Linked DNA regions of Homo sapiens. The protein of the gene in region 1 interacts with the protein of each later gene in a biochemical or structural test. Each region holds a gene or a part of one and is shown in the gene's direction. Other genes may lie near its edges.

What was found. Proteins that work in one complex are often made in the same cells at the same time.
Region 2: the proteins of MDGA2 (region 1) and NTRK2 form a complex in vitro, tested with the Homo sapiens proteins (one study listed by BioGRID).

What each region holds. Positions count from the first base shown.
Region 1 is NC_000014.9:46,839,581-46,846,606, reverse strand, and holds the end of MDGA2 (MAM domain-containing glycosylphosphatidylinositol anchor protein 2), read left to right. Parts: intron 1-735; coding exon 736-841; intron 842-4,587; coding exon 4,588-4,676; 3' UTR 4,677-6,515; downstream 6,516-7,026. UniProt on the Homo sapiens protein: May be involved in cell-cell interactions.
Region 2 is NC_000009.12:85,015,703-85,022,728, forward strand, and holds part of NTRK2 (BDNF/NT-3 growth factors receptor isoform a precursor), read left to right. Parts: intron 1-4,503; coding exon 4,504-4,662; intron 4,663-5,549; coding exon 5,550-5,735; 3' UTR 5,736-7,026. UniProt on the Homo sapiens protein: Receptor tyrosine kinase involved in the development and the maturation of the central and the peripheral nervous systems through regulation of neuron survival, proliferation, migration, differentiation, and synapse formation and plasticity.

The sequences.
Region 1 (7,026 bases):
TAAGTATTTAATAATAAAGGATTCTGATTGTACTCATTTATTCTTTCAATATTCATGCACTGAGCCTCAGTGACCACCATTGTTATAGACACCATAAATTCAAAGGTATACCGTGAGATATTCAACATAAATAGACTGATACATATCTTCAAGTTTAAAAAAATGGAATATCAGCAGTGAAATCATGGAGGTAAATTATAAAGTCAACATGGGAATATGACGAACCTATTCAATCTATTTGTGAGAAATCAATGTCAGAGATAGAAACACTTTGTTCCGGGCTTCAATATACATATTACTGTTGTAAAGAATTCAGAATTGATTCATTCTTTAAAATATTTCTAGAAAACTAATGTTATGAGTTATGTTCAGATAAAACCAGAAAGAATCTATCTCAGAGAAAGACTTTTCAAATAAAACATTTTTTCTTATCCTTAAAAATTAAAAGAGGATGTGTAGTCATTTTTTTTAATTGTATTATTTAATTAAGTTTAGTTTTGCTTTAAAATCGACACAGAGCTTTTGATGTGAAAAACTAATACAATGCAAGGAAGATTCAATTACTGGTTTTGGGATGAAAGTTTATGTTTTCTGCAAGTTTTAATTTTGAAAGCCATCAAATATAAAAGATGCCAGGATTACTGACAAGTTTATTTTTGTCACCTTGATTTCTCAAGAGAAACTGATCTGCAAATCAAAGCTCCACATTTAGGTTTGTTTCATTCATATTTGTAGCTCATTTTTGAAGGTATCCGAGGTCCTGGAATAGAAGGTGACATTGCTATTGATGATGTATCAATTGCAGAAGGAGAATGTGCAAAACAAGACCTAGCAACTAAGAGTAAGTATCTTTGCTTGAGATTGGTTTGTTGTAACGTTAAAGTAACATTACTATTAAATTAACATTTAATTTAATTAATTTTAAAAACGGAGTTATTTTTAGTTGGTTTATTTAGAAATTTCTTATATGTAATACCCTAAAGTTTGTTCAGTTATTTTTAAAGTATTAAATTCAATTGTAGACATATTTGGCCTAAGATAAAATAGAAGTGAGATTTTGATTTAGATCTACGTAAGGCAAGTACACTTTGATTTTTAATTAAGATTTTAAAACACTTTGATATTATTTGTTTTAGAAGATTTAAAAACTTGTATTAAAATATTTGATGAACCTATATACATAGCACATATTTACAATGTAAATTGTATTAGTCAATCTTCATACTGCTATAAAGAACTGCCCAACACTGGGTAATTTATAAAAGAAAGAGATTTAATTGACTCACAGTTCAGCAAGGCTGGGAGGCCTAAGGAAACTCACAATCATGGCGGAAGGTGAAGGGGAAGCAGAGTACCTTCTTCACAAGGCAGCAAGGAGAATTGCTGAGAGAAGGGGGAAGTGCCCCTTATAAAATCATCAGATCGGCCGGGCGCGGTGGCTCACGCCTGTAATCCCAGCACTTTGGGAGGCCGAGGCGGGTGGATCACAAGGTCAGGAGATCAAGACCATCCTGGCTAAGACGGTGAAACCCCGTCTCTATTTAAAAATACAAAGAAAAAATATTAGCCGGGCGTGTAGTCCCTGTAGTCCCAGCTACTCGGGAGGCCGAGGCAGGAGATTGGCGTGAACGCGGGAGGCGGAGCTTGCAGTGAGCCAAGATCACGCCACTGCACTCCAGCCTGGGCGACAGAGCAAGAGTCTGTCTCAAAAACATAATAATAATAATAATAATAAAAATCATCAGATCTAGTGAAAACTCACTTTCATGAGAAGAGCATAGGGGAAGAGCCCCCATGATTCAGTTACCTCCACCTGGTCTCTCACTTGAAACATGGGGATTATGCGGATTATATTTCAAGATGAGATTTGGTCTCTCCCTTGAAACATGGGGATTATGCAGATTATATTTCAAGATGAGACTTGTGTGAGGACACAAAGCCTTACCATGTCAGCATAGATGCTTTCATTCGTCCAGTTTGTGAATATAGTGAATATATTTCCTGATTTAGCCAATTTTTTTTTTTGAGACGGAGTTTTGCTCTTGTTGCCCAGGCTGGAGTGCAACAGTGCAATCTCTGCTCACTGCAATCTCCGCCTCCCGGGTTCAAGTGATTCTCTTGCCTCAGCCTCCTGAGTAGCTGGGATTACAGACTCGCGGCACCACACCCCGCTAATTTTTTGTATTTTTAGTAGAGACGCGGTTTCACCATGTTGGCCAGGCTGGTCTCGAACTCCCGACCTCAGGTGGTCCACCTGCCTCGGCCTCCCAAACTGCTGGGATTACAGGCGTGAGCCACTGTGCCTGGCCTTTTGCCAGCCATTTTAACAGATTCAGCATTGTAAAGAGCCTAAATACATATATTAAGTAATGAAGTAGACCTCATATTTATGGTCTAATCTCCTATCTGCACCACAAGCTTGTTTAATAATTTGATTTTCACTTTATACCCTTTTTTGAGTATTATGGTTTAATGATATATTTAATTTTATTTTTTTGTCACAGGTCCATTTTATAATAGAAGAGATATAAATAAAACATGATGAATAATGCACAAAGATTTAGAATTATGTATTTAGCTGCTTCTTAAAGTCCTCATCTCCATATTTCACATTCGAAGCTATGAAATCTAAAATCATTCCTGTTAAAAATGACTGCAATTGAAGGATTATCTTAGACTCATCTGGAATCTTTTATTTTGTGGTCATATATAGAGAAAGTAATCAAACTAAATTTACACAAATTACTCATCAATTATTTAGCACATACAAAAGCATGAAAATCTATGTTGTATAAATCTAGAGCAAATCAGAGTCTTTGGTAATTTTCTATATTTAGTGAGAAACTGTACCAGTCTAGATGTTGAAAGTTGAATGTGTACAATTGTCCACTGATTACTCATATGAACTGAATTGACTCAATTCTTAAGTATTGTCAAAAGACAAAAACTAAGATTTTTATATAACAATGAGCCATTTTGCTCATTGTTATATAAAATGAAAATATATTAAAAAGTCATAAACTTAGTATTTCAAGTAACATATTTAGTAAAAATGTATCCTTGTGTCTGTCTAGTTCTGCTTTAGAAAACCAGTAGCTATACTCAAAAGAACAGTTTTTCTAATGCACAGGAAAACATGTATTCTCCTCAAAGGAGAATAGGATTTCTTTTGAATTTCATAGTATGACTGAGTGGCAGTAACATTTTATTAATTGAAGGCAGTTACAACTATATACAGAAATTTTACATTTTCATAATGTAAGCACAAATATTATAAATAAATTCAATAAATTGAATTAAACTTTTCAAAGGAAGAAAGCAAAGGAAATTATTTACTCCCTAGTGCAGAAAGAAAGCATAACTGATAAAACTAGCCACAGTAAATGCCTGTGAAAGCCCATAGGGACTTCATTACTGTACAAGTTCTATTACAATAGAACATTTTTATAATTAGTTTTTTTTTTCTCTTAAACTAGCAAATCCAAGAAATGTGTGGCAGTTTTAAATATGAAAACACCCCCTGTATGTATTGGGTGTATTTATATTTAAACTCTATAAATTAGGGGAAATAAATAATCTTAATTGAACACAAATAATCTATTTGGCATCAGAAAGTTTTCTGTTACATTTGTGTCATTTAATTACCATTTATTAAGTTCATTTTATGACTAGCATTTGATTGATTGATGATTATTAAATGAATATTATATTCTAAGTACAGACCAGCCTGAAGGCTGAAAGCCTCTTCCTGATTCCTCAGGCTGCCAGTTCTTTCCAGGCAATAAATGGAACTATGGTCCACACCATGCAGATATAAGATTGTATGTCTCAATTTTCAAACTCAATTCTCCCCTAGATACAAGCCACTTTGCAACTTTAGCTAGTTTAATGAATTATATCTGTGTTATCCCTCCACAGTAAGGCATGCATTCTAAGAGGCATCAACTGGACACCAGGTTTTAACAGAAATCCCAATTACAGTAGGACTTTCCAGGCCGATTGGTGGAAGGGATTTTTTAGTTTGAATGGACTTCATCATGCCTCTAAAAGTTAAAATAAAGAGAAAATTATTTGTATAATTTATAGATAATGGACCGATCTAAACATGGATCATCTACTAGTTGCAATAGTTAATTTCTGTACACATAACCATCCCTTTCTAGTTTTCATTAAGATAGATTTTCTTTCAGTCTTCAAGCTTATCCACTTCGGGAAGCTTGAAAAAAAATCTACTTTTTGAAGTATTCTGATAATTTTCTCCATGTTCCTGCTTTCCTGTGGCTAGCAGAACTCTTAAGATTGAGCTCAACCACAAACCTATGTGAATATGTTATGAACAAGTTTTCATAGCATATTATATCAATTCAAAATCTGTAAATCTTTTTATCAAGTGCCTTAACCATATATTCATTTTCCTTTTCACTTCCCTTAGCAATGAAGCTGATAAATAAAACAAAATAAAAATAAATATTTTCCAGAAATATTTTCCATATACTTGTTTTATTATTCACCAAGGTTGTGTTAGTAGCTACGTGGAATGCTTATTATTCTTCTTTTTTTGTTTGCATTTATTTTCCTTATCTTTAGATTCCGTTGATGGTGCTGTTGGGATTTTGGTTCATATATGGCTTTTTCCCATTATCGTCCTCATCTCTATCTTAAGTCCTCGAAGGTGACCTTATCCTGGCAGAGGCTATAAAAGATTCACCAGGCACTGGCATGAAGAAAGAGTCTTTGTAAATGGACATTGAACAAACAAACTACCAAAGATTCCTCCACTGACTACTGACTCAAAAATAAAATAATAAAAACAAATTTTTTTAAGCACTGGGGATAAAAAGACATCATGGAAGTATAACTTATTCCAGACTAAACATAAAAGATAATCTTGACCTGAGTAGAGAAGAGACCTTCAGGTGCTTTTGTGGCTAAAAAGATTACAGCGTCATCTGGTTGAACTCTGGAAAAAAAAAAAAAAATGAAAAAAAGAAAAAAAAAAGAGCTATAGAAATCCTTGTCAAAGCACAAAGTCATGGCTGGTTTTGTTTCAAATGAATAGTTTGCTTGTTACCATGGAAACCTAATGGCCTGCCAACAAAAACCTCACTGTAAACAGGGTACGTGAAGAGCTGGCATTTATTTTCCTTACGAGAAGGTTTTCGTAGAGAATTAAATAAATGTAGGCCCTTTTACCTTTGGCTGTTACCCTTCCTTGAAAATAACCCGAACTCAGAATTATTTAAAGCATTCATGTTTCTCCCCACCTTATCCCCATCCCACCTTTATTATTATTATTTTTCTCCCATGGCTAAGCTAGATAACTGTATGCTGTCTCTTTTTGCATGCACTACTATCCAGGATGGTAAACCTGGGCTTACATGTTACACAGGCTTATCGGAGTTTGCTTGCGGCCACTTGAACACCCAAACTACGTCATCTGTTCCAATGAAGAAACCAAACCACCATCTTTTATAAATTGCCATGGAAACCAAGTGCCTTCAATGAAACAAGCCTGAATAATTTTCAACTCAGAAGCTTGCACTGCTAAGAGTGGTTTGTGTAAAACTATTTTATAAACAAACTACAGAGCCTAAATGTGCAAATTACAGGCAAGACAACAAAGCCGCTTCTGAAGAAGAAAGGACCGAAGCTGCTGCGTAAGCCCATGCAGACAAGATATTTGTTGTTTAACCTCCTAGACAGCCATGGCCTTTCGGCTTATTGTCCATTAGAAAATCACTTCCATTGAGACCAGACATGGAGCAACACTTTTTTTCTTCCAGGTTATTAAATGGGTCAACCAGAGCAAAAGGTTATTAAGAATACTTAGTGCAGAAGGTGGTAAAACACAAAAGTGATTTTTTTACTCTAACCTCCATTTGAAATGAAATTGGCCCTAGCTTTAGAGGGAACAAGAAAATGTTTGGGATTGCAGTGCATACTAACTCTACAGTGGAACTGGGCCTGAAAAATCTGGCTTTATTCTAAACTCTGAGGGTAATATGCCTCTGCCCTTTAGTCAGACTCTGTGCAAATTGTGAAATATTATTTTATTATTTTACCAAGATTATAAAAACACTTTTACAAAAAAACAAAAACCTGTAAAAATAATTTTGAGCTACCTGACGACAAATCATATCTTTAACCAGCCAGTTTTCCAATGCATTGTAAATTTCACTTAAACCTGTTGGTTATGAAAATTTGAAGATCATTTTCCTTAAATTATCTCAGCTTTTAACTTCATTTAAAAAGACTTTTGTCTAAGAAGAATATTATTATTATATGTTCTTTCAACACCCCAGGATTAAAAAAACTGATTATGCAAGCAATTGGAATATAAGTATTAAATTATAGCATTTGCAAATATTAATATAAAAGCACAACAAAATGTAGTGGAAAATGACAAAGCTTGTTTTTTAAAACAATTCTGTAGAAATGTTTGTGCAAATTCAGTAATTCAACTTAAAATATAATTTTACAGCTATGTTCAATAAAGCCTCTTTCCAGGTAAGGTATGACAAGCAGTATGTGTGTTTGTTGAGCAATGTTCACTTATCACTAAAATGAAATTAGTTATACAATTTATTGGTTACCATGGGATAAATCTTCAGTGCTCCACATACCTTAATGTCTGCAGAAAGAAATTTTAATAGGAACTCCCTGATGCACTCCCCTATATTGTAATACATGCAGAAAGCAGTTAAACCTTTGAAGGTAAAATATGAAACATATATGAACCTGGAATTTAATGTCTATTTTCAGTCAGTTCAAAAGGGGACCAGTTTGAATATTTAGGTAGTGATGGAATTGATCTGAACCAAGTCCTTTAAATTAAACATAATAAACAAATGAGTTTCATAACTTATTTGAATGAATTAGACATCTTAAAATTTTTTCAGAGTTTCACAGTAACCCATATACTTTATCAGACCAAAGAGATTCAAGTACACAATATCTGGGGCATTTCTTTTACGTTTTACAAAATTTCTCTTCACCTTGACTTCCATTTTGTGGCAACTAGCCCCT
Region 2 (7,026 bases), on another chromosome or scaffold:
TGCAGCAGGAAGGGAGAGTTTTTTCTTGAAGTGGTGGGACTTGAGCTTGCCTTCATAAAGGAGACCTTTGGGAAGTAGGGAGAAAGGGAAGAAGATCAAACTTTCTAAGAGGCATGAGTAACTTGGCCCTGGGTAGGAAGCCACCTAAGCTTGCTGGCTGAACACAGAGTGTGTGTGGAGACTGGAGAAAGCAGAAAAGCAGAGTGGTCCATCCTAATGAATACAGGATGTCCAATGGGGAAAGGTTTGGTATGTGGCTTTAGGTAAACTACTTAAACTGACTGACTTTTAGGGGCATTACTTGCACTATCCAGGCAAGTCCATGTCTGCTGTAGAGCATAACTGTTGGGTTCAAGTGAGATAATTGAATAGAAATTCTTCGTAAATGTTGAAGACTGAGTGTTGATGGATGATTACGGTGGCACTGAGGTGGTGGGTGATTCCGGAACCACGGCGTTTTTGTGCTGGAAGTAACCAAGGGCTGCCCTAACTCTTCACATTTTACCAATAAAGACAGAAGCCAGACCTGAGGGTACCTGCTCAAGCTGGTTAATAGCAGCAGCACAAGAACTAGAACTCCAGTCTCTTGGGTTGAGGAAAATAAAAATTGCAAGTCCAAGTCAACTCTCCAGATAACTGGGTTTCTCATCTTGCACCAGGTCAACCTGGTGAGTTTAGTGAAGACCATGAGACCCCATTCAACTTAATTACTGGAGAGCCCCTGAGGCCCCACAGCATATCAGGCTGAGAGCAGGAATTCTGACTCTCAGTGTCATTCCTGGGATCACATTCCATCTCACAAATATTTAAGCAAGGGCATGAGGGCAAGTTGCCAAGTAGTACGATACAAAACAAATGTCTCATTGTGTTTGTTGCTGCACAGTGTGTTGTTTGTGTGGTCCAAAAACCATCAAGTGACTATAACTAGAATGTGACAGTAATTTGTAACAACAGTGACTTTTTTGGGGGGAGGGTCTACTTTTGTGACATGCTTCAAAATTCTGAGAAAGGGTTGCAAAAGAAATGTTCAGAAATGTACTAAATGGGCTTAGAAAACTTGTGAACCCTGTCTGAACTTTTATTAGATTGTCCCACCACTCACCCATTTGACATCTGAACAAGGAAAGCATTATTTATAACAGCATGCGTGAAATCCCAGAAGGGATTCTTGAAAGAATTAGAGTGAAAAATCTGCCCCAAAGAGACAGCAAGCAGAAAATAAATGATCAGATGAGAAAACATGTAAATCAAAACGTGAATCTTTTGTTCTCTCTCTCTTCTTTAAAGGAAACAGAAGCTTTTTCTTGGCTATTAGCAATTCAGGATAGAGAACCAGTATCAGGTTTTCTATCTTGCATTGCTAATGACCAAAAAAAGTGGGTGCTGCTATCAAAGGAGCCACTTGGTTAAGGCCAAATGAAGAGTTCAGGAGAGTGACATATGATGATTCTTCTTAATGTCTCCAGAATGGCTGCTTCTGGAGTAAGTAAGAGAGTGAAGGTTCCAGAGAAGAAAGCCACACCTCAAAAGCATTAATACTTTAAGACTTAGAAAACACTTTCACAAATGCCTGCTTGAGTAAATACCTCCCAACAACATTAGGAGGTATACATTATTACTTACATATAATTATTAAACCTTGGCCACAGAGAGATTTGGCAACTAGTCCAGGTTACCCCAGTAGGAAACAGGTAAGTGAGCGATTGGAAACCAGCTATTGTCATCCACTGCATTGCAGCTGTGAATATCCAGGTAGATATGGAAATCCTGAGATCTTGCTAGATTAACACACCTCAAAGTGTATTTTTAGCTGTCTTACCTGAGACATATATAAATGGTTATCTCTCCCACAAACATACATTCAAATAGTTTAATTTACCAAAGTTAAGTTTGTTCTTTCCTGCCAAACTCCTCACATACTTTAATAAGCCTCAGTCCCTGATGGATCTCCTTGAATTGAAGAGGGTTGCAATTTACAGTACATTTGACATATTTGATCTAGGAACTTCTGGGGTTGTTAAAATAACACAACTCAGACAGCATAACAAGAAGACCAGGTCCCAGTCTTTATTTTAAGATTCCTACTTCTCTAAGCCCACTTTGACCACTGGGGTTCTATTTTATCTAACGAGAAAGAACAGCAACACCAAAATGCACAGTGGAGCTGGTTGCACCATAGCACTATGCTGACATGAACAATGATGAAATGAGCTCTTCTTTATAGGGTAGGAAGAAGGTTAAAATGAGAGAGGTAAGGTTAAAAATAAGATGTATAGCAGAAGGGATTATTTTTCCCTTTGATTTCATCTTACCCATTTTTTTTTGCATGTTAGGTAAGCAAAACAATGCCATGTTTGTATCTTAAGAGGTTCCCATAAAATGCTTGCTGTGTGGATGAAAATGGTCTGTTAAAATGTGTAGACCTCTGTCCTATCTGCACCACCCAGGCAAGGTCACATAATTGCCAGGAGCAATTTCATCATCTGTAGGCTAGAGGTGCCACCAAGAGTCCTGAGTTCTTTATGGTTTGCTCACACAATTAAATGACACCAGACGTGTATAGATGTTTTCTAAACCATATGGTACATTCCAATTATGGCTTCAGAGAATGGCAAGGAGACTAGAGATGCTTTATTCTAGGGGTTAACAATCTTTGAAAATGTGTGTGCCAAAGTGCCCAGCCTTTTCTGGCACATAAACAGAAGGGTCATTTGCCCACCTCTGCAAGGTGGCAGCAGCATCCCTGCATGGCCCAAAGCAGTCCTCTCCTTGGCATTGCCATGTGGGCTGCCCAGACCTGGTGAGATCATTCTACCCTCATACCGCAAGTCCTCCAAAGCATCTGGAAACAACAGGTCCTCTGTGTATGTCAGCAGATTCCCTCTCCCAAAGTCCTGGGCACCTGGGGGTCACAGAGTTATAAACAGGGCAGATATTTGCCAAACCAGAAATGTGCTGAAATAGCTGCACCCATATTTACTACCCACATCCTTTCTGGTTGGTCAGTGTCTGTGCCACACTGATTGCAGTTTGAGTATCGACCCTGAGGGTGACTGTTGCCACCACCTTCAGACATCAAGTAAGACCATAAGAGAAGTCTCTGTCCATTGAACACTGATGACCTGTCACTGCTGAAGGAAGAGTGAGGAAATCTAAGGCCAATGGAAGCCAACTTAGCCTTTATGAGCTTTTTGTTTATTAAAAACTGAATAGTAGAGATGGGTCACCTGAGCCAGAAGTTTTTGTCCCTATTTGTCAAATTTGGATGCATCATACAGAGAAGAATGAAATAAAATATCCTCCCCCTTTTGTACTCTTGTGCTTTCTTTGGTGCTAAGAACATCACTGGGAATCACCAAGCATGTTAGACATCTCTGACATTTCAGCCTCTTGGGTTCTGGGGTAGGGGAACATTTTCCAGACACTATTAGTTTATTTTCTTCCTTTAATAAATACTAACTGGATATTGAGATTAGAATTGGGCAGAAACTCTATGCACCATTACTCTATAAACTCAGGACCCAGAGTTGTTAGAGAGGTCCAATTTTCTGCTGTAGGATAAGCCCACCTGCTCTCAGCTGTCAGGCATACTGTGTAGCATGGTGGTGCTGGGGGGTTACCAGGATGAAAAGCAGAACCTACCGCCACAGGACTACTGTGCAGAAATCTGTTCATGGGTTTGAAATCGGGCATCCCTGACAAACCTGGAAATGAGCTTCCTAACTTTCCTCCATGAAGTAGGAAGTCATATACAATTTTACTTTGTCAAAGAAAGTTTTCTTTGCCTGTACTAATGCGATTGCTATCTGATGCCCCAGTCTCAGTGTTTTCATTAAAATGGGCATTTAAAAAATGTATTTATCTATTGTGGTAAATAATCTAAGGAGCAGTGCCCTGTAATAGAGGAAAGTCCTGAGCTTAGAATCCAAAGACCTGAGTTTTGTTTCTGTAAGCAATCTGAATCTTATTGCCTTATTTGTAGAATGAGAATAATGATGCCTGACCTGCCCATCGCTGAGTGATGGTGGAGGGGTTTGAATCAGCATCATGCACACATAAGACCTGAAAGCAGAAGGAGACTCTGGCCTTGCCAAGGAAGTAGAGTCACTGGTTGGTCATTTTGGATGCAGAGTACCTCTTTGTTCTCCTGGTCAAAGTGATCTTGTTAATTAGAAGATTGAGTCATCCTCTTAGCAGAAAGTGTGTGTATGTGTGTGTAGTTTTATTTATCCAAGGTGATCATCTACCTAATCATCATCCCTGCTCCTATCTGGTTTTGAGAGAAAGAATTGCAGATAATATTTTTTTAAATGATTTTGATCACTCTTTGCCTTCTGTCTCTGTTGCTTGAGACTGTGAAGAAGTCATATATCCTTTATGTGTTTATAAACAATTAAAACTATAAAGTGCAAATAAGGAAAGCAAACAGTGTCCCCCAGCAGCTCCCTTCCACACCTGGTTTCGGGGTGACTGATGCCTCCCTGTTGATCCCTTTCTCCCCAGGTCGGTGGCCACACAATGCTGCCCATTCGCTGGATGCCTCCAGAGAGCATCATGTACAGGAAATTCACGACGGAAAGCGACGTCTGGAGCCTGGGGGTCGTGTTGTGGGAGATTTTCACCTATGGCAAACAGCCCTGGTACCAGCTGTCAAACAATGAGGTGTGCAATGGGTCTGGCCAAGACCCTCCAGAGGGCTGAGATCCCAGAGGCATCCATTGGCTGGGGCCTTGTTTTGGGTTGGAAGACCATGTCAGGACACGATCTTATGGGCTTTGTTGGTGGCAGCACTTCCCAAGTAGCCTGCTATGTTTCTAAATTTCATGGTCAAAGTATAATCACTCTGAGAAAGCAAAGCACAGTGCTCGCTGCTATGTCCTTGCTCCTCTGGTGATGGGACTGAGGAGTCACTTTATGCAGCTCATCTGATAAATTAATAGCAGACGTAGCATTCCAGAATCCATACAGTCCAGCAAGTTCTTTAGTATTGTTCCAATGAAGTTTCAAGATTCTTTCCTTTTTGAATATTTCACCAGAACATTAACTTCTAGTGAAAAACTCAAGCATTTTGTTTTTTCTATTCTTACGCTTGCAAATATTGTTTATATTTGAGGCACAGCATCTTGATCAGGCACCGTACATCTTTTTCAGATCCATTTCTATCTTTTTAATCCAGTTCCTTTATCCAATAGCCTGAGAGGTTTCCTGTCAGTCAGTGCCTTAACACCCAGGTGACTCAGGTTCCATCTCAGACCAATAAAAACCACAACATGTGGGAGCTCCAGTGTGAGGTTTGGGACCATTCCATATAAATTATTTTTCCACCAGTTTTGTGAAATCAGAGTGGCTTGGACAAATGGATATAAGCCAATCAAAATAAACACGATATAAACTAACCTATAATAATTGCTCTCTTCCTTCTGAGAAAACAAAACCAAGAGTGGGCTTCTTTTGTAAAAGCCCTCTCTTCTGCTGTTTTTTTGCACTGACATTTCTTCGATGTGCATTGCTTTTCCTCCTGTCTCATCCTATCTTTGATCTCCATCCAGGTGATAGAGTGTATCACTCAGGGCCGAGTCCTGCAGCGACCCCGCACGTGCCCCCAGGAGGTGTATGAGCTGATGCTGGGGTGCTGGCAGCGAGAGCCCCACATGAGGAAGAACATCAAGGGCATCCATACCCTCCTTCAGAACTTGGCCAAGGCATCTCCGGTCTACCTGGACATTCTAGGCTAGGGCCCTTTTCCCCAGACCGATCCTTCCCAACGTACTCCTCAGACGGGCTGAGAGGATGAACATCTTTTAACTGCCGCTGGAGGCCACCAAGCTGCTCTCCTTCACTCTGACAGTATTAACATCAAAGACTCCGAGAAGCTCTCGAGGGAAGCAGTGTGTACTTCTTCATCCATAGACACAGTATTGACTTCTTTTTGGCATTATCTCTTTCTCTCTTTCCATCTCCCTTGGTTGTTCCTTTTTCTTTTTTTAAATTTTCTTTTTCTTTTTTTTTTCGTCTTCCCTGCTTCACGATTCTTACCCTTTCTTTTGAATCAATCTGGCTTCTGCATTACTATTAACTCTGCATAGACAAAGGCCTTAACAAACGTAATTTGTTATATCAGCAGACACTCCAGTTTGCCCACCACAACTAACAATGCCTTGTTGTATTCCTGCCTTTGATGTGGATGAAAAAAAGGGAAAACAAATATTTCACTTAAACTTTGTCACTTCTGCTGTACAGATATCGAGAGTTTCTATGGATTCACTTCTATTTATTTATTATTATTACTGTTCTTATTGTTTTTGGATGGCTTAAGCCTGTGTATAAAAAAGAAAACTTGTGTTCAATCTGTGAAGCCTTTATCTATGGGAGATTAAAACCAGAGAGAAAGAAGATTTATTATGAACCGCAATATGGGAGGAACAAAGACAACCACTGGGATCAGCTGGTGTCAGTCCCTACTTAGGAAATACTCAGCAACTGTTAGCTGGGAAGAATGTATTCGGCACCTTCCCCTGAGGACCTTTCTGAGGAGTAAAAAGACTACTGGCCTCTGTGCCATGGATGATTCTTTTCCCATCACCAGAAATGATAGCGTGCAGTAGAGAGCAAAGATGGCTTCCGTGAGACACAAGATGGCGCATAGTGTGCTCGGACACAGTTTTGTCTTCGTAGGTTGTGATGATAGCACTGGTTTGTTTCTCAAGCGCTATCCACAGAACCTTTGTCAACTTCAGTTGAAAAGAGGTGGATTCATGTCCAGAGCTCATTTCGGGGTCAGGTGGGAAAGCCAAGAACTTGGAAAAGATAAGACAAGCTATAAATTCGGAGGCAAGTTTCTTTTACAATGAACTTTTCAGATCTCACTTCCCTCCGACCCCTAACTTCCATGCCCACCCGTCCTTTTAACTGTGCAAGCAAAATTGTGCATGGTCTTCGTCGATTAATACCTTGTGTGCAGACACTACTGCTCCAGACGTCGTTTCCCTGATAGGTAGAGCAGATCCATAAAAAGGTATGACTTAT